Linked DNA regions of Homo sapiens: all the other regions are linked to region 3. The links come from fine-mapping of genetic effects on gene expression. A gene starts in region 3. Each other region holds a variant in brackets. All regions are shown on one strand. Distances are from middle to middle.

Region 1 (8,191 bases), 730 kb before region 3:
CAGATAAAATTTTTTATGAATTTACATATAGTATGTATATTTACAAAATGAAGAAAACCTCAATTTTACCTAACCAAAGCCAGTTAGGAGAAACCACTAAAGATCGATTTAAAACTAATAATGGTCCCATTTGTACTATACATAACCTGTTTTCATTTCTTTTCAAAACATAACAGAGAAATTTTTCCATGTCTATAAATACTCCTTTACTGCATACTTTTAAAATGACTACATGGTATTTCATTTTCTTTATTACCACAATTTGTTTAAACAAATACCTATTTTTAGACTTGTTGGCTTTAATTTTTCAATATTTTAAATAATGAAGCAAAAAGTATTTAGATGAATTTTTATGCTATTTATATTAATTTCCTGAGGATAAATTTCCCGACTTAGAGTGAATCAATGAACATTTATTCCCATTCTCAAGGATATGATACATTTTATTTTTTACTCTAAAATCGTGTACCTGTTACATACTCTGGAAATGGACAACCAACCACTTGAATGAGAGCAAACAGAGGATACTTACTCGGAACTTGTTGTAGCAAGAGAATAATCACCATCACTTGCTTTTTGCAGAGACTCAAAGACAGTCAGACTCTTAAAGGTGGTGGTAAAGCTTTGTAGTGAAGGAAAGGGAAGGCTTCAGGTATCCCCTGATTACAGGTTATTGGCATGGGAAGGTTGGAGGCAGGCTAATTAATTTGCATTGTGGTTATTTATTTCAAAAATTACTTTCAAAATGAAATACTTATGGAAAGTTCCTAGCAAAACAATTGATATATAGCAAGATCTCAGGGAATATACTGCTTATTGTTAGGGCAAGAGATTGACACCATCCTGGCAAACATGGTGAAACTCCATCTCTACTAAAAATAACGAAAATTAGCTGGGTGTGGTGGTGCGTGCCTGTAAATCCCAGCTACTTGGGAGGCTGAGGCAGGAGAATCTCTTGAACCAGGGAGTCAGAGTTTGCGGTGAGCCGAAATTGCGCCACTGCACTCCAGCCTGGCGACAGAGCGAGACTGTCTCAAAAACAAAACAAAACCCAACAAAATAACAGCAACAAAAAAAAAACTTTCTAAAATAGGGTATTCATCATATTACCGTTTATCAAAATTTAGTGGTGGTTAATTTCCTATAGGATGATGTGAAAACCTTTAGCTGGTATTCAGAGGCCTTTATATTCTGTTTGTTTATTTATTTATTTATTTATTTTTATTAAACTTTAAGTTCTGGGGTACATGTGCAGGTTTGTTATATAGGTATGCATGTGCCATGGTGGTTTGCTGCACCTAGCAACCTGTCATCTACATGAGGTATTTCTCTTAATGCTATCCCTCCCCCTGCCCCCCACTCCCTGACAGGCCCCACTGTGTGATGTTCCCCTCCGTGTGTCCATATGTTCTCTTTGTTCACCTCTCACTTATGAGTGAGAACATGCAGTGTTTGGTTTTCTCTTCTTGTGTTAGTTTGCTGAGAATGAAGCTTTCCAGCTTCATCCATATCCCTGCAAAGGACATGAAATCATTCTTTTTTATGGCTGCATAGTATTCCATGGTGTATATGTGCCACATTTTCTTTACCCAGTCTATCACTGATGGGGATTTTGGGTTGGTTCTAAGTCTTTGCTATTGCGAACAGTGCCACAATGAACACACACTTCCAATACTCATCTGCCTGTTCATCAACTCAGCTCATAAATTACAGCTTACTTATAATGTCTGTACAAGTCACTGTACTTCAAGAAAACCTTGTTCCTGACTTTGTTTACATTATTTTTCCCCTCTTCTGGAATTTCTTCTCTCCTTCTGACTATGCGAATTCTACCATTTTTTAAAACTCACTCATTTTCATCCTCTATGTTAAAAACAGTTGCCGTGAGGCTCTCTCCTCTGAAATTGTATTGCGCTTGATATCACTACTACTAATTTGACATGAGATGCTAATTGTTCCTGTTGTCTTATATGACCAGTTCAATTACAGGCAGGTGCAAACATTTCTCACACATTTTTATATCTTCTCCATTGCCTAATATAACCTAATAACCTTTATTAATAGGTACTCAATACACATGTCTTCATCCATCAGTGTTTTCCTATGAAATCTAGAATATAGAACACTAATGAAGTTTTTTTTTTTTTTTTTTTTTACTAGAGAAAATTTCTTAAGGGTTTTAGTGCTCTCATTTTTGAAAAGGGGATAATGTTTTAAATTTTCTTTTAGGGAGAGGAAAATAATGAGAACATTTAAAGTTTATCTGTTTCTATTTTTATTTTATTTTATTTTCTTCTTCAAGACAGAGTCTCACTCTGTCGCCTAGGCTGGCGTGTGGTGGCATAATCCTGGCTCACTGCAGCCTTAAACTCCTGAGCTCAGGTGATCCTCCCGCCTCAGCCTCCTGAGTAGCTGGGACCGCAGACACACACCACCACACCCAGTTAATTTTTATACTTTGTAGAGACAGTTTCACCATGTTGCTGAAGCTGGTCTCGAACCTACCTCTGCCTCCATAAGTACTAGCATTACAGGCATGAGCCATCGCACCTAGTCTTGTTTCTAGAGAAGACATTATGTACTAAACAACACTGATGAGAAAACATGAATAAATGACGGGAAATTATAATGTTTTTTATATTTGTTATAAGGAAACAAATTACGACGTAATATCGGCAGTTTCTGTGTTACTCTCACTGCGTATATCCTTTGATATATCAAATGGCGAAGGAGCCATGACTTTTGCCTGTCAGAAATGACTCATTGTCATTTTGACTAGCTAAAAGTGCTGAGCACAAGTGCTTTTATTACTTCTTTTTTTTTTTGGTTTCTATGTTAAAAAATATCTGCAGATGCATAGTCATATTATTGGCATTCTATTTATCTACTTGATATGAATTCTACTTTTTTGCTGCACTAAAAAATTCATTAAAAAATACAATGAAACACTTCTCTTTTGGACCAGAGTGCAGAATTTTGAAAGAAAAAGGTGTAAATTGTTATTTCATATATGTGCCATGGTGGTAAGTGTATACTTACATATATGTGCCGTGTGGTAAGTGTATACTTACAGGAGGAGCCAGAAACACAAAGCAGGGTGAGAAATTTTAAAAGCAAAGTTTACCACTAGGAAGCTATGGGTTGTGAGTAACAACCTAAAGATAGATCTTATAAAAAGAAGTAAGACCAGCAAAACATCTCAAAGGAACAGAACAAAATTTTAAGTATTCCTTATGACAAGTTGAATTAATTGGGGAACTGTCATTATGTTTTCTTTATGACTATTAACTTAAAAATATGTATTATATAAAATGAATACATATTTTGATTAAATGCAAGATTAATATAGCTGTATTTCTTAAGGATATCACTAGTTTGTAACATTTTCTTAATATTTAAAAGTATCATATTTTAATCACTATTAATTTTTATTTCAAAATGAATTATAAATAAAATATAAATTTCCACTTAATTTTGGTGAAATCTATTATAATCCATGCAAAAAACTCAACTGCTAGTGAAAAATTATACTTTCTTTTGTTTTCTGTTTCTTTTAGGTTTGAGAAATAATGCCAACACTTTCAAGAATACTGTCATGGTTTTTGTAAACGAAAATTACCATATACAATTGAACAAACATGTTTTACTTTGAAAAGGAGATAAAATGCTGCTTGCTTACTAGTTTTTACATTTGAAAAAGGTCAAACAGATTTTTATATTACTATATTAGTTTGTTTTCATGCTACTGATAAAGACATACTCGAAACTGGGAACAAAAAAAGGTTTAACTGGACTTATAGTTCCACATGGCTGGGGAAGCCTCAGAATCATGGTGGGAGGCGAAAGGCTCTTTTTACATGGCAGCGGCAAGAGAAAATGACAAAGAAGCAAAAGCAGAAATCCTTGATAAACCCGTCAGATCTCATAAGACTTTTTCATTATCATGCAAACAGTAGGAGAAGGGCCTCCCAGGGTCCCTCCCACAACTTGTGGGACTTCTTGGAGATACAATTCAGTTGAAATTTTCTTTGGGACACAGCCAAACTCTATCAATTACATATTTGAATATTTTAAGAGAATGAATTGAGGCATTTAACCTGATATAAATAGACTGC[G/A]TAACTCTGCCTGCCTTGCAGACATTTAATTGTTTATTAATATGTAGCAAGAGAATTCACTTCATACCCCTTAAAAATCCTTCCAAAATGAATAACCTATAGAATTATAGGTTGAGCATGTAATTTATCATCTAAGCTGGGATACTTTTCAGAGGGAAAGGAGAAACCAGATGTGATGGTGGGACAGCTGGTGTGAATGTAGACCATCCCAGGCAAATCAGAATATGTAGTCACTCTACAAAAAATGCACATTGAATCTTTTCCCACATCCCCAAGTAGCCAGTTTTTAAAATGATCCCAGTCTTTGTTGTATATACGTTCTGGTAAAATTCTAGGTAAGGATCCTTTTAAATTCCTGAATATCTCAAATCTCTTGGGGTGGGGGTGTTGCTCTGCACAACTTTTGCAGGGTACTTTAATAGTGATTTTATTTAAGGCCTGTATGTATCACTTATTTGTCACATTTAACATTGTGTCATGACAGAAAACTCTTTTCTTAATTTAAACTTTTATTTTAGATATAGGGGGTATATGTTTAGGTTCACTGCATGGGTATATTGCACCCAGATAGGGAGTATAGTACCTGAAAAATAGTTTTTCAATCAACACCCTTCTCCCTTTCTCCCCACTTTAGTAGTCCACAGTGTCTGTTGTTCCCATGTTAATGTCAATGTATGCTCCATGTTTAGCTCCCATTTAAAAATTAGAACATGCAGTATTTGGTTTTCTGTGCCTGCATTAGCTCTCTTAGGGCTACAGTCTCAAGCTCTATCCATTTTTCTGCAAAGGATACGATTTTATTCTTTTTTACAGCAGCATAGTATTCCATGGTATATATGTACCACATTTTTCAATCCAATATACCATTGATAGGGCACCTAGGTTAATTCCACGTCTTCTCTATTGTAAATTTCATGGTGATAAACATACAAGTTCATGTGTCTTTTTTCGATAATGATTTATTTTCCTTTGGGTATATACCTAGTAATGGTGTGTCCAGAATTGGTGGGTTCTTGGTCTCACTGACTTCAAGAATGAAGCCATGGACCCTCGCGGTGAGTGTTACAGTTCTTAAAGGTGGCGTGTCCAAAGAGTTTGTTCCTTCTGATGTTCGGATGTGTTCGGAGTTTCTTCCTTCTGGTGGGTTCGTGGTCTCACTGGCCCAGGAGTGAAGCTGCAGACCTTCTCGATGAGTGTTACAGCTCTTAAGGCGGCGTGTCTGGAGTTGTTCATTCCTCCCAGTGGGTTCGTGGTCTCACTGGCTTCAGCAGGGAAGCTGCAGACCTTCGCGGTGAGTGTTACATCTCATAAAGGCAGTGTGGACCCAAAGATTGGGTAGCAGCAAGATTTATTGCAAAGAGTGAAAGAACAAAGCTTCCGCAGTGTGGAAGGGGATCCAAGTGGGTTGCCACTGCTGGCTCAGGCAGCCTGCTTTTATTCTCTTATCTGGCCCCACCCACATCCTGCTGATTGGCCCATTTTACAGAGAGCCGATTGGTCTGTTTTACAGAGAGCTGATTGGTCCGTTTTGACAGGGTGCTGATTGATTGGTGCATTTACAATCCATGAGCTAGACACAAAAGTTCTCCACATCCCCACTAGATTAGCTAGATACAGAGTGTCAGTTGGTGTATTTACAAACCCTGAGCTAGACACAGAGTGCTGATTGGTGCATTTACAAACCTTGAGCTAGATACAGAGTGCCGGTTGGTGCATTCACAATCCCTTAGCTAGACACAAAGGTTCTCCAAGTCCCCACCAGATTAACTAGATACAGAGTGCCGATTGGTGCATTCACAAACCCTGAGCTAGACACAGGGTGCTGATTGGTGTGTTTACAAACCTTGAGCTAGATACAGAGTGCTGATTGGTGTATTTACAATCCCTTAACTAGACATAAAGATTCTCCAAGTCCCCACCAGACTCAGGGGCCCAGCTGGCTTCACCCAGTGGATCCCTCACCAGGGCCGCAGGTGGAACTGGCTGCCAGTCCCACGCTGTGCGCCCTCACTCCTCAACCCTTGGGTGGTCAATGGGACTGGGGGCCATGGAGCAGGGGGCGGCACTCGTCAGGGAGGCTCAGTCTGCGCATGAGCCCATGGCAGGTGGGGGAGGCTCAGGCATGGCAGGTTGCAGGTCCCGAGTGCTGCCCCGCAGGGAGGCACCTAAGGCCTGGTGAGAAGTCTAGCACAGCAGCTGCTGGCCCAGGTGCTAAGCCCCTCACTGCTCGGGGCCGGCGGGGCTGGCCGGCCGCTCCGAATTGTGGGGCCTGCCGAGCCCATGCCCACCCAGAACTCATGCTGGCCCACAAGCGCCGCACACAGCCCCGGTTCCCACCCATGCCTCTCCCTCCACACCTCCCCGCAAGCTGAGGGAGGCGGCTCCGGTCTTGGCCAGCCCAGAAAGGGGCTCCCACAGTGTAGCGGTGGGCTGAAGGGCTCCTCAAGTGTGGCCAGAGTGGGTGCCAAGACTGAGGAGGTGCCGAGAGTGAGCGAGGGCTGCGAGGGCTGCCAGCACGCTGTCACCTCTCAATGGGATTGCTGGATCAAATGGTAGCTCGGTTTTAAGTTCTTTGGGAAATCTACATACTGCTTTCCACAGTGGCTGAACTAATTTACATTCTCACCGATAGTGTATAAGTGTTCCCTCTTCTCCACAACGTCACTAGCATCTGTTATTTTTTTACTTTTTAGTAATGACCATTCTGACTGGTGTGAGATGGTATTTCATTGTGGTTTTATTTGCATGTCTCTGATGATTAGTGATAATAAGCATTTTTTCATATGTTTTTAGGCTGCTCATATGTCTTCTTTTGAGAAGTGTCTGTTCATATGGTTTACCCATTTTTTAATGTGGTTACTTGTTTTTTGCTTGTTGATTTGTTCAAGTTCCTTATAGATTCTGGATATTAGACCTTTATTGGATGCATAGTTTAAGAATATTTTCTCCCATTTTGAAGACTGTCTATTGATAGTTTCATTGCCGTGCAGGAGCTCTTTAGTTTAATTAGGACCATTTATCAATTTTTGGTTTTTTTTGCATTTGTTTTTGGGGAGTTGGCCAAAAATTCTTTGCCAAGGCCAATGTAAAAAAGGGTATTTCCTAGGTTTCTTCTAACATTTTTATAGTTTGAGGTCTTACATTTAAATCTTTAATCCATTTGAGTTAATTTTTATATATGGCAAAAGGTAAGGATCCAGTTTCATTCTTCTGCATATGGCTAGCCAGTTATCTCAGCACCATTTATTGAATAAGGAGTCCTCTTCTCATTGCTTGTTTTTGTTGGCCTTGTTGAAGATCATCAGATGCAGTTATACTCCTTTATTTCTGAGTTTTCTATTCTGTTCCATTGGTCTACATGTCTGCTTCTGTAGCAGTACCATGCTGTTTTGTTTACTCTAGCCTTATAGTATAGTTTAAAGTCAGGTAGTGTGATGCTTCCAGATTTGCCTAGAATTATTTTGGCTATTTGGACTCCTCTTTGGTTCCATGTCAATTTCAGAATACTTTTTTTCTAATTCTGTGAAGAATGACATTGGTAGTTTAATGGGAATAGTGTTGCATCTGTGAATTTCTTTGGGCCATATGGACATTGTAATGATCAAATAATGTTTTGAAATTAATGAAAATAGGGACACAACATACCAAAACCTCTTAGGGGATGCAGCAAAAGCAGTATTAAGAGGAAAATTAATACTATTAAAAGCCTTCGTCAGACTTTTTTTTTTAAGTTCAGAGGTACAAGTGCAGGTTTGTTACATAAGCAAACTTATATCATGGGGGTTTATTGTACAGATTATTTTATCACCCTGATATTAAGCTTAGTACCCATTAGTTGTTTTTCCTGATCCTCTCCCTCTTCTCACCCGCCACCCTTCAAAAGCCCCCAGTGTATGTTCTTTCCCACTGTGTGTCCATGTGTTCTCATCATTTAGCTCCTACTTATAAGTGAGAACATGCAGCATTTGGTTTTCTGTTCCTGTGTTACTTTGCTAAGGGTAATGGCCTCTAGCTCCATCCATGTCCCTGCAAAATACATGATCTCATTTTTTTTCTATGGCTGCATAGTATTTCAT
Region 2 (8,191 bases), 120 kb before region 3:
GTATTTCAGATCATGAATATGCCACAGTGTATTTATTTAAATTGTTGATGAACATGTGGGTGTATTTATTTGGGGGCTATTACAAGTAGTGCTACTATGAACATTATTGTACCAGTATTTTGGGGAACACATTAACTTATTTTTATTGGTTATATAAATCAAGGAGAATTACTTTCATTGGCTGTACATATATTCATCCTTAGTATATACTGCCAAATGTTTTTACATAAATGGGTATTCTATTTTTATTTGCTATTCTTGCAAACTTCTCCATAGTCATTATGCTAATTTATACTCTCATGTCAGAAAATAGACTGGGTGCAGTGGCTCACGTCTGTAATCTCAGCACTTTGGGATGCCGAGGCGGGTGGATCACCTGAGGTCAGGGATTTGAGACCAGCCTGGCCAACATGGTGAAACCCTGTCTCTACTAAAAATACAAAAGTTAACTGGGTGTGGTGGCACGTGCCTGTAATCCCAGCTACTCAGGAGGCTGAGGCAGGAGAATCGCTTGAACCTGGGAGTCGGAGGTTGCAGTGAGCCGAGATCTTGCCGCTACACTCCAGCCTGGGTGAGACTCCATCTCAAAAAAGAAAAGAAAAGAAAAGAAAAGTTCAGGTGACACCTCAGTCTCCACAACATTTGGTTTTTGTCTTTTCTCTATAGGTTGTTTGTATATTGTTGATTTTTATGAATATATACGTTGGATATACACCCTTTATTGGAATATAGGTATTTCAAATATCTTCTGTCACTATGTGTATTTCCATTTTACTCCCTTAAGAGTTTCTTCTGATGAACAGAAGAGTTAATTTTGATGTACTATTTATCATTTTTCTCTCTTTGGTTTGCACTTTTTGTATTCTGTTTAAAACATCTTTGCTTTCTCCAAGATTATTGAATATATTTTCTTATGTTTTCCTCTGCAAATGTTATATTTTTATCTTTTACATACAAATCTACAATTCACCTGGAATTGATCATTGTGTGTGGTGTGAAGTTGGGGTCGAGACGCGATTTGTTTTTTCATATTGACACAACTACATAGCACTGTTTAAAGAAAATACCATCCCTTCACTTACTGCACCATGGTGTTATTTTTCTCACAAATCAAAGGACTGTGCATGTGTAGATCTGTTTCTGTCCTATTGGTCTATTTGTCTATTCTGATGCTCATACTGTACTGTTTTAATTATCATTGCTTTATAATAAGCTTTAATATTCAGTAGTTAAGTTCTCCATTTCCTCCACTTTTTGTTCTTCTTTTTCAAGATTGCCTTGGCTATTGCTGGTCTTTTAATTTTCATATAAATTTTAAAACCAGACTGACAATTTCCACAAAAATTCAGTTGCATCTTGATGCTGTTACATCTGGATTATAGTTCTTTTTAATCTTCCATTTAAAGAGATCATATTATTAAATGTCCTATAGGAAGTTAAACTAAAGAGATCCCATTAAAGTGCTTCTAGCGAGTGAAGTTCACAGTCTTCAAACTGAGGTAGGCCTACTTTGGAAGGATCTTGGTATGTCGGCATGGAAGATTTTAAGTGCGTCTGCTTCCAGGTCCTGAAGTCCATGTTTTTGTTTCTAAAACTGATCTGTTTGGGAATACCCCTGTCATCATTTCCAATATTGTCTTTCATAATTACCCTTTTTCTACTTTTCGAAAGAAAGGCATACTTCTTTCCATTCTTAATGTTATTATTCATTGACAGTTGTGAAATTGTCACAGCACCAACCAATACTTCAAAATACTGGTTCTGGCAAAACCTCCTTAAATGAAGTCACTATGAACCAGCAGTAAATCATAGTGTTTTTCCTTGTTTTACTCCTAATATTGGTGAAAATGAATCCTGTAAGTAGGAAGTTACTTTAACCCATAAAAACATGTTATGAATTCAACATATATTATAGATTGGAGTCGTGGCAATGATCACAATTTTTGTTTAATAAAGTCTTTTCTCCCATCACTCAACTATTGTCAAAACACTGTTGCTGAGTATCTCAGGGGAGCAAAGCCAAGAACAACAGTAAGGAATACTGAAGATGGTAGCACCTGATTCATGCAGTCTACAAGTTCTGACAAGTCTCTATGCCTTATCTGTCTATGCATTTTTGAAGTGGAATATTCAAGACTTATGAAAGGCATTTTCAGTCTCACTAAGGAGAAGAAATCTGGTAAAGACTCTCATTCGGCTGGACGCAGTGGCTCATGCCTGTAATCCTAGCACATTGGGAGGCCGAGGCAGGCGGATCATGAGGTCAGGAGTTCGAGACCATCCTGACCAATATGGTGAAACACCGTCTCTACTGAAAATACAAAAATTAGCCAGGCGTGGTGGCACGTGCCTGTAATCCCAGCTACTCAGTAGGCTGAGGCAGGAGAATCGCTTGAACTTGGGAGGCAGAGGTTGCAGTGAGTCGAGATCCTGCCACTGCACTCCAGCCTAGGTGACAGAGTGAGACTCCATCTCAAAAAAAGAAAAGAAAACAAAAGAAAAAAAAATGGCTGTCACTCATTTGTGCTTTGTATGATAAGATAGAGGAAGTTAAAATTTGCTATGTATTTCTGGAAGACCAGTAGATTGTTTTCTTTTTTCCCTACTATTTATTTAGATTCATAGGAGACATCTGTTTCTTGACTTGTGACAAAATTCCTGGATAATGTACGACTATGTGCATTTTTTCATGTGGGTATCAGATTCCCACTTGTCACTGATACACCATAGCTCTGTTTATTTACCAGTAACATTCCTGGTTATCTCTCATGGTGTGTATTTATTCCATGAACTTACTAGATTTACATTAACCTAACTTCAGTATACTGTGGATTATACTGTATAAAAAGAGCATTTAAAAGATAATAATCAATGTACTTGTTTTAAACCTTATATTTACCTTCGGTCCAATACCTTTTCCTATTTTTTATGTTAATTTCCACAAATTAGGTAAAAATCTGCTCTCTTAATAGTAGAAATCTTAAGTGCGTGTGCTGGGCAAAATGTGCTGCTATTACAATCTAGGCCAGTCTAGGGCAGAGTGCCCTGCACTTCAGAAAACCTGCTTCTTATAGTCAGAATTAATTTATCCCTCTCAGATGTGATATGTCATTTTAATTCTATTGGATGTATTAAAAATATGTTTAACAACTGAATCATAAAAGGACACAAACATTAGTAACATGACCAAAGCTACATCCTTAAAATAATAATTAAAAATTAAATGTAACCTTAAAGTTTCTGGGAGTATGTAAGGAGAAAAATTTTAATTCCACAGGTTTAGTTTATTGGGGCTCATTTGTGCCAGGTAGACATGACAAGTTGCTGGCTTGAGAAATGAATCCAGCCCATAAAAGTCATCCTATTTCAGCAAGAAGGCTTTTCTTTATTTTTTTCTAACATTGAATTTGTACTGAAATACCTATAGACAATTGATTTCCTCTGCTTCCTTTCCACTCTCCCTCCCTACTTTCTTAAATCTGTTTCACAAACTTTTTTGTGCCCGGCTCTTGAATCAAGCATTTATTTTGCTATTCAAGTGGCAATTGGTAAGGAGATTGTAAGGATAAAGAGTAAATAGCATTGATGGGCATTCGGGTTGATTCCAAGTCTTTGCTATTGTGAATAGTGCTGCAATAAACACACATGTGCATGTGTCTTTATAGTAGAATGATTTATAATCCTTTGGATATATACCCAGTAATGGGATTGCTGGGTCAAATGGTATTTCTAGTTCCAGATCCTTGAGGAATCACCACACTGTCTTCCACAATGGTTGAACTAATTTACACTCCCACCAACAGTGTAAAAGCATTCCTATTTCTCCACATCCTCTCCAGCATCTGTCTCACTCATAAGTGGGAGTTGAACAATGAGAACATA[TG/G]GGCACAGGCAGGGGAACATCACACACTGGGGCCTGTCGGGGGTTTGGGGGCAAAGGGAGAGGTAGCATTAGGAGGAATGCCTAATGTAGACGACAGGCTAATGAGTGCAGCAAACCACCATGGCACATGTAAACGTATGTTACAAACCTGCACATTCTGCACATGTATCCCAGAACTTAAAGTATAATGAAAAAAAAAGAGTAAATAGCTTCTTTAACAAAGTACAAACTCTATTTGTAAGAAAGTATAAAATTTTACTGAAGCAAAGAAAACAAGATCTGAGTAGATGTCAAAAGAAACACAAAAAACAAGATCTGAGTAGGTGTCAAAATAAACTATGTCTAGGATGGAAAGTCTCAAAATAATAAAAATGCCAATTCTTCTCAAATGAATGAGTCAGATAAAATACCAAAAGGATGTGTGGGGAGTGGGTAAGGTGTACTAGGGTGGTTAGGGTGAGGAGAAAATAGATTGGTTCTAAAGTTTTTGTATTAAAATAAATGCCTGAACATTGCCAAGACATTTTGAAAAAGAAAAATAATAGTACTGACTACATAATTTGAGGGGCCTAATGCAAAATAAAAATACAAAACCCGTTGTTAAAAAAATATTAAGAATTTCGAGTCAGCAAGAGCAGAGAATTACACCAAGTGTAGAAGTCTGCACTACTGCACACGGATGAAGCTGATCATGGATATGACCATTTGGTGAGATCTACAAATGGATTAACGGACATAGAGATATGTTCACTGTTTTGTTAGAGACTACAATGACTGGTTCACGATTCTTTTGTGTGCTTTTTATTTGCCTAGTTTAATCTCAAATCAATTAAGAAGTTGGGCTTCAACAGGAAAAATAACAGCTTTTTGATATCTGAACCAGTGAACCCCGTTGTTTATCTCTTGTGTCTCTTGACCTGTGGCCAAAATTCTCCTATGTAGGAGAATATTAATAACTTAGATTATAAGTAACTTTAACTAAAAGAATTGTATTTCAGCGGGCTTATAGAGATAAATCAGTGCGTATATAAATCAAATATTCCTAATGTTTCAAGAAAACAAAGACTTTAAACTTATAACTAAAAAAATTTTAGATCTAAAATTTATTTTCTTGCAAAAACTTAGAAATGTTTTAAGGTTTCAAGCTAAATTAAGATAAATCTTTAAGCAAAGAAGCCCAATCTAACAATTTTGATTTAATTTAAAAAACTGTCTTCTGATTAATCGATGTGAAGTTTAAGACCAACTTATATTTTATTACATTTGAGTTTGTTTTTAATAAACTTTAATAGGCTTACTGATAAAATAAGCTAACTTTAACATAAAGTTTATGATTGTGAAAATGTAAGTTTTTATGCACCTTAATTGTATTATTATTCTGATAAACATTGTTTCAAGACTAATCATATTTTGTCATATGTCAGCTTAAAGATAAATTCTAAGACCTTTAGATAACTTAAAACCTGATTGAGGCTGGGCGCGGTGGCTCACGCCTGTAATCCCAGCACTTTGGGAGGCCGAGGCAGGCGGATCACGAGGTCAGGATGTGAGACCATCCTGGCTAACACGGTGAAACCCCGTCTCTACTAAAAATACGAAAAAAAATTAGCTGGGCATGGTGGCGGGCGTCTGTAGTCCCAGCTACTCAGGACGCTGAGGCAGCAGAATGGCGTGAACCCGGAAGGCGGAGTTTGCAGTGAGCCGAGATTGCACCACTGCACTCCAGCCTGGGCTACAGCGAGACTCCGTCTCAGAAAAAAAAAAATAAAAAAAAAAACTGATTGATATAAAGTTGTGTTAATTAATACATAATCATTAGATATATAGATATTTTTAAAATAAGACGACAGCAAAACATAGGAAAACTTGGAAAGTAAATTTTATTCGCCTTGATTTATCATACCTGAGACTGAAAAAAAGTCTGTAAAATGTGTTAAAATTGTACAGTTTGTTCAATTTTTATAGTCTTTCTTCTTCCTTGGGTTATAGATTAACACCTTTGTCCACAATATGAAAATATTTTCAATTATAAAAGAGCTAATGTTCTTTTTAATTGTGGAGCCTATTTTTTTAAAAAAGCATTTTATTATAACTTTTATTAAATATGTAACAAGTATTGTTTATCAGACCATATCTTAATCAAGTATCTAAATCTCCTCTTCTATTTTCTTTCTTGCATTCTTCAAATCAGATTCTAAATACATAAAAAATGAATGCAATTGTCAGGATATCTTTTATACCTGAAAATATTTTGAGATAGCCCAAAGGGCACCTGGAAAATAAAATATTTTTTTCACCTTATAAATAGAAATACTAGAAAGCATTTGGTTTGTTTGATGTGTTACTATGATAACAGTTGCATGGGAATAGTTATTGATTCTCAGCCTTCATTGACCTAACTTTGTATAGGTAAAATATTATTAATATCAATATTTAAGAAATTACATGCTTTATGGAAGTTTAGAGAGAGTTGTTAATGTCCTCGCTGTCCATAATATGTTTCAATCTCAAGAGAAACAGTTATCATAGCTCTTTGGAATATTTGTCCAGTTTTTGTATAGCTTACAGCTTCCTGCTTTGCCCAATATTTGATAATAAATAGTAGTCATAATTTCAGTTATTATTTAAAATGTCAATTGATGATAGTAATACCTTTTTAATTCAAATATAACATCTGTTAGACACTAGTTCTCAATTTTCTCAATTGGGCATACATATCAGACTTACCCTTGGAGTTTGAGAGAAATACAGATGTCTAGGCCCTACTCTGGACTTATTGCATCTTTTTTGCTTTACATACTTGATCTATAAAATTAAGTCTCAGAACCACTTTATCACATATCTTGAGTTTTTCTCTTAATAAAAATCATGTTCATACATTTGTGTAAATCAGATGTGATATTCAATGTCTTGAAAACAGGCTTAATTATTGACCTTAGGAATATTTTGTCTAACTTTGATTTTGGAAGTGTGTTGTTGTTTGTTTTGTATGCCTCAGAAACAATTTTTTTGTCACTTGCATTATGCTTATTTTGAACCCTCATTCGACCTCTCAAATTTAACTGTTATTAGGAATAAGTTAAGTACAGCCATTTTAAATAACCATCATCCACAGACAGTTTTCATTTGAACCTGATGCTTGCCTGAAGTCTCTGCCAAAACCAAAAATCAGAGATTTTTTCTTCAACAAGTAAAACAGTTTTAGAGACTTAAGTAAGAGACTGTACTAGGTACTTAAACTACTGACTATCCAGATAACAGACTCTTGAAGACAGACTTCTGAGCAGATATCGTTTAGACAACTTTCAAACATATCAGTGGACTGAATCAGGATACCCAGAACTCAATTCCAGACAAGAAGCAGATGATATAATGTGACTGCTAACTCATGATCCCACAGGACGACAATTAATGACTAAATGGACTAATGGGGGAAAATGTATTATGGTTATCTGTTTGGAGTATTATTGATTTTGTTTTTACAATTTTTTTTTAGATATATAAGGAAGCTACTTCTCTTTCTTCTTAAGCTATCTAATCAACACTGATTTTACAAATTCCAGTGAAGCATTTTAGAAATAATATCTGATTCTCATGACACCCTCTCCTGCTAGAATTGGAAAATTTAAGTAAATCTCCTTATTTTTTGGCGGCAAGTTACCTTATGGTAGTTATTTGCATATATTTGGTAAGAAACTGTTCTCCTTCTTACCAGGTAATAATTGGACATATAGATTATGCAACCACTCCAATATGGAGTATCATATCTGAGAATGGTGATTATCAAGTCAGGTATTTTAAAGTACAGATATTTTAAAGAACAAAGATTGATGTACTTGTGGGACCAATGCCTATGGAGTCCTCCCGGGAAAGCTGGCCTGGTACAGGTGGAAAGAAAGGCAAGAAACCTTAATAAATTTAGAGTCCTTAAGAAAAAAAAATATCCATCCCTGTTCTTAGCTACTATGGTGAAAACTGGCAAAAAGAGATTTTGGACTTGGATTCCTAGCTTCAGGACAGCAAGTAATAGAGGCTTTCACACACTGGGAGCCTTCAGTCTAATATCTCTCATTCACAATTTAAATACTGCATGCATTTCTTATCCTTTCTTTTATTCCTTCTTCCACACTCTACACAATCAGAATACTTGAAATTAATACAATAAAGACATGTCCTCTATCATGTGTATACAAGATACCACTCCTGGCCTGGTACGGTGGCTCAGGCCTGTAATTCCAGCACTTTGGGAGGCCAAAAAAATAAAAAAAAAACTAGCCGGGCTTGGCGGCATGCACCTATAGTCCAAGG
Region 3 (8,191 bases):
TGTTGGGATTATAGGCATGAGAGGCATGAACCACTGTGCCCAGCCACTTTAATGTTCTTTTAACAAGAATTTCCTACAGAAAACACAAACCAACAAAGAAATTAATTCCAATAAATACATTGTCGTAGAGATTGTGATATATATAGTTAAAAAACCACTTTTGTTACCTATCAATATATGTTTATCTACTTATTTCTAGATCTATAATTGAATAATTATACTAAAACTATAAAAATACATGTTTATTTAAATTAATAGTAAACACTGTTATCTTTAATTTATGAGGGACCTGCAGGTCTTCGTTCAATAAATTTCCAAATGGCAAATACTATTGTGTACATACATTCATTACAAATAAGTTTAACTTCAGTTCTATGTGTAGCAAGTTTCAAACAGGATGACAGAGTCATCATTGTGCTATGAGAAAAGTTACAAGTTTTTCACAACTTCTACAAGTGATTCTATGTTGACCAAATTATTTTCTGGAAGCTAACTACATCCTTTTAAAGGATAAGTTAATTCAAAGACTTAGGATTGTATTCATTCATTCTTAGACCCTAGCCAACAATTTACATTGATATTGCCTCAATGACAAAGAACACCTGGTACAAAAGTGACTCGCATGACCTACTGAATCATATTATTCATCATATTCCCAGTCAATGGCCTCTCAGCACCTACTCTGGATAGGTCAGCAAGCTTCTAATCAAAACAGCTTTGACTGGTGCTTTTGCCTAATTTCCTGAGTTCTGATGATCCCCTGGCTCAATTCAGCTTATTCATGATCCTATTTATATTTATAATTGTGTACAGGCTGCTTGTAACTGCAATCCTGCTTAGTTGTTCTTCTCTTGACTTACTTTCTTGAATCAATCCTTTCTTCTAACTTTGTGGCAGGTCAGTTGTTACCGATAGCCTTTCCTTGTAACACCTAAGCAAGAACAAGAGAGAAATTAGATGGCCCCTTCTACAACGGCTTTGTGCCTTTTTGGAACATGTAACTGTGGATGATACTTACTTAGTGTAAAATTGCTGTCCAAAATTTTTTGAAGAAAGAGAAGATGCAGCACAATTTGTGGTAATAGAAACAATGTAGTTTTGAGTCTAAAATTCAGATTTTTCTCCATTCCATGTGGTTAGACCTCTCTATTATATTCGAATGGAGATAAAACTCTTAATTATTTTCATTCTAGAAATGATGTTTAATAAAGCATATTACACATAGTGGATGCTAAGTAAATATTTCTTACCAATCGTTTTAGAAAAGCAGTTTAATTTCCCTTGCTTTAAAATAACAGAAATGAATCATTCTGGCAATGTGGGAAAATTCAGGATAGAGTATGACTATATTTTTGTGTGTACATATATATGTGTGTATATGTATCTTTATATATACATTTATAGAGAACCATTGAAATTATAGATGTTTCAAATGGCCCCAAAATGCAATGAGGAGGAGATACCTAGACAGACAATAAAGATAGTTTAGCACTTTAAATTTGGATAACTTCATTGATAAAGGCTATCACACAAGCAACATGCAACTAAAACTGTAAGATATATTTACAACATTTAAAAAATGTAAATGAAAAAAGAAGTATATCCATTTCCACGACTGTGCAGTCTGTTATTAAAACTTTTATTTTAAATATATGCACATAAAATATTGAATGCATTAAATTGTAAAACCACATCTCCTTAGTAAGAAGATGAAATAAATGCCATCTTGAGTATTCATTGGACACTGGAGAAAAAACTGAGGATGCTTCTTTCATTCCTTAAAACATTTGAGTATTTTAAGAAAGTAGATAATTTATATATAATTTTAAAGGGTAGGCTCCTTCTATTAATGAACAGCTAAGAATGATTAGTTGTTCCTTCTTTTATTCATTCAAAAAGTATTTATTGAACATATATTCTGCTAGGTGCTCTGCTCTGCTCTAAGCATAAAGACGACTAATGCAAGGTGCTATGCCAAGAATATTCTATATAGATTAATTCAAGCTCACACCCTGAGTAACTGTAGATTGCTGAGATATAAAAGGCCCCAAATTGGATGATGAATGAATTAATAAATGAATGGCATTCTCCTGACTGATAGTAATATATTATTTCTCTATAGCATGGACACATGCATTACTGCTGAATATAATGAATACTTTATGTAGCTACTGATAGATTGATAAGCAAATTTAAAAAATTCTCTCTTAGCATTCATTCATTCAACATTCATTTATTCATTTTATTTTGGTGTGACTGTAGTCAACTTTCTCCTGCTCTCCCTCTAGCCCCACCCCACACCATCTACCACATAAACATACACACATGTAATATCTAATATATAGTCTGCACAGAATGAACATTCTGTGAATCTTTGCTCCAATGAAGGAAGAATTTCTTCTTACGACTAAATAATGAATATTGCAAATGCTGGAGGCAGGGAGGGGGGGTGGGGGAGGGGTGGTGGTGGACGTGTAGTTTTTTTAAAAGTGCCTCCTGGTAGCCAGGGGATAGTTTAAACATTAGGAAAATTTTGTACAATAAGATTTAAGTTGAAAATCTAAGGTACAGGAACGCACTTAAAATGAAAAAACAAACAAAAAAGCAGGATTTTTTCCATTAAACTTACCCTTTCCCTTCCTTTTTCCTGAAAAACACAATGAGCAGACCTACAATGGAAATCCAAATTTCAACAAGTGTTATTACGAGTGCTGTACATTTTTATGCAACATATTTTATCTATTATAAAAGTAATGATATATGTGAATCTTCTGAAATTGCTATATAAATTATGAAATATAGCCAGAGAAAAAATATTTTAACATGGAATATTATTTGACAAGAAATCTGATATTGACAGCATGAGACTTTTGTCATACCTAATTACTATATTTACTCATTCTCTTTTGTATTAGTTGTATCTCCCACCATCAGAATTTCCAGGCTGAAACACAGAACTTTAATCTCTGAGTAAAAAGTGTGAAAAATAAAAGTTCTTTATTAAACTATGGCAACTTATAAAAAATAATATCTTTTTAAAGGTTTACTGGAATTTTCTTATAAACTCTTCTATATCTGACACCTAGACAAATGAAACCTTCTGAATAGATTTTAAGTATTTTAAGAAAGTAGATAGTTCTCAAGAATAATAGGAGGAACTGCAGGGAATTCAAAGGATATTAAAAGTCTGACTTGTACATTTAAATAAGGTTTCTTTGTTTGAATAATTTTTTGCTTTATGAAAATACACATCATTCTTTTCACAAAGGATGACAATCACACAAAAGAATAAAATATATGTAATTCTTTTTCCTCCTGCAATGATACAATATCAACTATTGTCTGTTTTGCTGTGATCGTGGAACAGCAGCATGATTCCATGTTCTCAAATATTCCCATGGTTTGTTCTTAAAGCCAGAATCTGGCACAATTTGAATTGGAAAGATAAATACAGCTCTGCTCAGCTGACAAACACACAGGCATGCACCACCCTCCCTTCCAAATTCTAACAGCAGAGTTTCTCTTCCCTTGAGAAATCTGAAATCTAAAATTGCATTCGGACTGCAAAATTCTGCTGAAAGAGCCTTAGGCTATTTTCCATGGTCTAAGGTAAAATCGTTTTGGCTTTGGTCCAACACAACGCCTCAGTTCCTTTAAAAGATTAACTAAAGGTCTGTGAACTTGGAAAAAAGAATTCCCGTTTCTGGAATTCGAGTTCTATGGATGTTTGTTATTGCTCGCATTTGTTATATGAAGACACCTCGCAAACAGGAGCGCAAACCTTAGAGCGCAGCTGCCTCCCGGGCTCGGGTCAGCGCTGGACCGCGCGGCAGCTGGACGGCCTGAGTGGCGCCCCGCGGGCTGCGCCCCCGGCCTCGCCAGAGACCCGCTAGGGTTGAGCCCTGACCCGGGCACCCCGCGGGCTGCTGTTCCCAGCTCCGGATGCCAGCCGGGCTGCAGCCAGAGCGCGTCCAGCCGGGGGCAGCGCTTTGTCCATCCCCCGCCCCATCCCCAGGAGGCTCCTTCGCGGATCCCCGACACTCTCCTCCCGGGTTCGGCCCGCGCCTGCTCCACCCGGGTGAGTTGGGAACCGGAGGGACCTGCTCGGCACGAAAGAATTCAGCCCAGTACCCTCTCCGCTGTCTCTTCACTCCTGACAAGTGCCTGTTCCGCCACCCTAATCCCCATTTTTCCAGCCGCGCTCCCTTCACCTTCCCCACCCCGCTCTCTTGGGACCCCCGACAACGCCCTGGCACCAGAGACGGGTGCGGGCTCCCAGGGACCTGCGCAGACTCGCAGCCCGCGCGGGGACCCGCCACGGCCCCTCGGTGCAGGCCTACCCGGCGCGAAAGGGGTTGGCAGGGAGGGGCGGGAGCCCGTACCTCGGGGCGCCCCGGCCGCTGCAGGCCCTGGGCTCCCGGGAGCGCGGCCCAGCGCGATCGCTCCTGCACCCCGGCGGTGGCGGCAGCAGCGGGAGCAGGACCTGGAGGCGGCGGTGGGGAAGAGGGGGCGGGGGTTTAACGGCGTCTCGAGAACACGTGACTGTTCCGGGGACCCCCGAGACCCTGCTCCAAGGCGCCTGCTCCGCGCCAGCCTCTTCCAAAGCCGGGGGCCGGGGGCGTCCCAGACCTACGCCGCTGTTTGGGCGCTCTAGGGAGAAGCCACAGGGCCCCGGGATGTCGTCCCTTCACCCTGGCCTCGGGTCCCAGGCCGACCAAGTTAACTTGATGGGCAAATCGAGTTTTGCCGGTCCAGCCCTCAACCCTGTGTAGTGAACTCTGAGAAGTCTTGGACTGGTGTGAGGATGGCTGTGCCCCTAAGTTCTTAGTATTCCTGAGAACAAGCTTCGACTCTCAGGTTTTATCTTTGTTTGGGGTGGGGGACGGTGGGGGGTGGTGTGGTGATAGAAAGAAAGAAAGAAAAAAGACAAAACACTGCTCTTCCTTTGCACCTCTTTGAAGTAAGGAAGAGTGGAGGTGGGGAGGCTGACCCAATGTTCAGGAGAGGCAACAGCGTCTGCGGTAATGAGCCCAGCAGAATAGAAGGGAAGTTTCCCCACTCCAAGGAGTGGCAGCTGTGGGTGTGGGCAAGTGGCAGGAGCAGGGGAGTGAAGCTGAAATGAAATCAACGCTGCTCAAGACTATATTCAATAGCAAAGAGAAGACGAAGGGCTAAAAACGAATTGTCACAGGTTAAAAAAAAAAAAAGACGGGAAAAAAGCCCACACAAAAGAAGAAGAGAAAACCTGTCCTTCTGTTCCTTCCCAACATGATTTCCATCCCTAATGTTTCCAAATCTGTATTGCGCAGGTTTGCTTTATTTTTAGCTAATCATTAGGTGGCAGGTACTTTAGGCGCGCGCGCGTGTGTGTGTGTGTGTGTGTGTGTGTGTGTGTGTGTGTCTGTGAGAGAGAGAGAGAGAGAGAAGGAGAGAAGGGAGAAAAGAGACATTGGGTAGATGTCCATGTGTCTTTGGACATAGCTTTACCATGAGAAAGGGTGTAGTTATTGTACCCTTTAATACTGAGAACTATTATGTAACAGACAGCATCTCCTGCTGAGTAGAGTCGTGTGGGATAAACCGAAGAGAACTGTACCCCTTGGGAGCAATGTGACTTGTAATTCTAACATCTGGGGCAGACATCACTGTTACAGAAGAGGTCAAAGAAAATTTTTTGTGTCCCCTTTCTGCTGGATTTCAGCATTCAATACTCAGGGGATCTGTATAGATTGCTATTTCATCAGTCAAAGAGTCATCCAAGAGCTTTTAAAGAACTCAAGTAAACACAGTTCCTGTTTTATTCTTCTGTGTGTTATTTCTGAAATATTAATATATTCTCCCCAAAAGCTTAACAGAATAGGCCGTCTGAGCAGGCACCTGGGATTCTGCAGTAAGGAGTAGGGGATGAAAGTGTCAAGAAGGGATGACCTTGAGAAAATAAGGCTTGTTTTTTAGACTTTCTTAACTCCACTGTCTCTGCGGTTAATGCAGTACACATTGCCACATAAATTTCTATCTTTCCATCTCTTGCACAGTCATAACATGTACACTTCAAATACACATTGTCTTTAAAACAAATTCCAAGTGAACCCCATTGTGACTTTCAAAACACTAGTCTATGCTACAGGCTTTTGCATATTAAAAGTATTAAAAAATCTTATTTTTTATTTTCCACAAATTTGTTTTCTATTTTGATGATATGAACCTTTAGGTTGAAGTCACTGTTATTAGAGTATTGAAAATAAAAGGCTACCTGCCACTGATACAAAGATTCTAATTAACCTGGCTATTTTCCCTTCCCACTGCACCCACAAACAAGCAAGTCTCAAAAACAGGAGTTGGCATTTCTTCTTTAAATACACGTGACAATACACAGTATTAAGAACACTTGGAGTGGACAAGTTATTAAGAGTTTTTTTGAGGAAATTATAAATTTACAAATTTAAGCAATATGCTACATAAAGAGGAAGATATGAAGATAAGTGTGTTTTTACCTTTAAATTTCCCAGGGGGGATTTGAGACTGATCATCATTACTCTTTGTAGAACATAATAATTTTATTTTTATTTTATGGAGTAACATCTTAGCGAAGGGGAATACCAGAACAGAAGTAGTAATGTCCACCTCTGTTTTATGTATTTTTCCTACTCACTATTTATAAAATGCTCATTTGGGAAATTAAGTTGGATTTTATGCATGTTACAAAATTAAACTGGCTATTGCCCTGTTATTACAGTTCATTATCAGTTATGAAAGAAAGCTTATCTGTAAAGGTAAAAGTTAAAGGTGACTTGGGACTCCTAAGACAAATTATTGAACGATAAAACAGTCACCCAACAATTCCTGGGGTAGTATTTTGCTGAGGAACATGGCTGTGGTTCTTGTCAAAGCTACTGCTGCATTTTAATAACAGCTACTATTTGTGGAAAGCAATTACTAAAGTGTTTTGGTATAATCTCAAATGATATTTGACTTTGATATATTAGTTATAGAACAAGTAGAGGTAAATAAACTAGAGAAAACAGTATTATTTTACTTTATGCATTTATTTCTCTGAGAATTTCGTTGTATTCCTTAAGGGTAAATGTTTCTTCATCCACTTTTTCTATCACGGTAAATTTAAATCCTTAATACTTAAAAGATGTGTTATCAAAAATATTTTATGATGCTCTATGCTGCATTGATTTCTTTGGAATAGTAATAATTTGTCACATAAATCAATATTTAGGACTTCAAATGAGGAGCCAACTTCTTATTATGAAATACATGATTTTTTTTTGAACAAAAAAAAAACCCAAAAGCTATTGAAAAGAAGTTTAGCCCAAAGTATTGTGTGCATTGAGTCCATTTCCCAGGCAACTTAACGATAATTGTGAGGTCCTACGGGGGCATCATTAACATTGTATTGACTTCTGATAAACACTGTGCTCCTTAAGCAACACTTTATTTATCCTTTTGATGCCCTAATGATTATACCATAAAACAGTGACTGACTTTCAGAGAGAATGTATAATTATTTTTACTAGCAAATACTCATGTTAAAAATACATACACACATAGATATGATACAGATGTATTTTATATGTTCATGTATTACATACATATTTTTATAATAGACACTTATCAGAACACCTGAGTTGTAGCCAGGCTTGATCTCAAATTAATGGTGTGGCTTTAGATAGGCACTTGATTTTTCAGTCTTCGTTTTCTTTATAAAATGAAATATTTTGAATCGAAGATCTGGAGTCCCCTTTGAGACCTGACTACTTATGACTTTATGCCATTAATTAGCATGCATTACAAACATATGTGTAGAAAAATCATATTTTTAGATCTTCAGAAAAATTTGATAGCCATAGGCATTGTTTATTTTCCCTCTATATTAAAATTTACAAAGAAAATACTGATGCTAAAGTTTTCCATTATTATTGGCACATTCTCTTCTCTGCAGCTAGTATTAACTATATTTCATGTATTCATTTCAAAAAGTTATGGCTGTCTTACATATCAGTACTTCATTCTTTAATTACATTGTTTTTCAGTTTTGCAGCACAAATATATATATATATATATGTACAAGAAGAGAGCATGGATTCCTTTGAAAATATAACATTTTATTATGTCAATCCATATATAGGCCATACAATTATTTCCTTTTGTAGTTTAAAACTCCTCTGAGAAAAGATAAGTA

Which allele goes with the higher level. Alleles are on the strand shown, and positions count from the first base shown. SD is a standard deviation of normalised expression in the study named. Not every link is listed here.
As copies of G replace A in region 1, the expression in atrial appendage of the gene that starts at base 4,491 in region 3 goes up (moderate effect, 0.72 SD a copy in GTEx).

The links. PIP is the estimated chance that this variant, and not a neighbour inherited with it, causes the effect. A credible set is the group of variants that fine-mapping cannot tell apart.
Region 1: its variant is the best candidate, but not a certain one, in a credible set for the expression of NPY5R in atrial appendage (GTEx, PIP 0.61).
Region 2: its variant is the best candidate, but not a certain one, in a credible set for the expression of NPY5R in lung (TOPMed, PIP 0.65).

What each region holds. Positions count from the first base shown.
Region 1 is chr4:164,066,669-164,074,859 of GRCh38, reverse strand. The region is part of intron 2 of MARCHF1 (membrane associated ring-CH-type finger 1); the gene reads left to right. Among named protein-coding and RNA genes, the nearest start is that of MARCHF1, 310 kb to the left of the region's middle. The variant G/A (reference allele first, on the strand shown) is at 4,116.
Region 2 is chr4:163,456,622-163,464,812 of GRCh38, reverse strand. No RefSeq gene overlaps it. Among named protein-coding and RNA genes, the nearest start is that of TKTL2, 13 kb to the left of the region's middle. The variant TG/G (reference allele first, on the strand shown) is at 3,883.
Region 3 is chr4:163,340,192-163,348,382 of GRCh38, reverse strand. It overlaps NPY5R (neuropeptide Y receptor Y5), which reads right to left and starts at 4,491. Exons shown (of 4, transcript NM_006174.4): 1 at 4,383-4,491; 2 at 2,630-2,669; 3 at 861-931. It also overlaps a transcript of NPY1R not described here.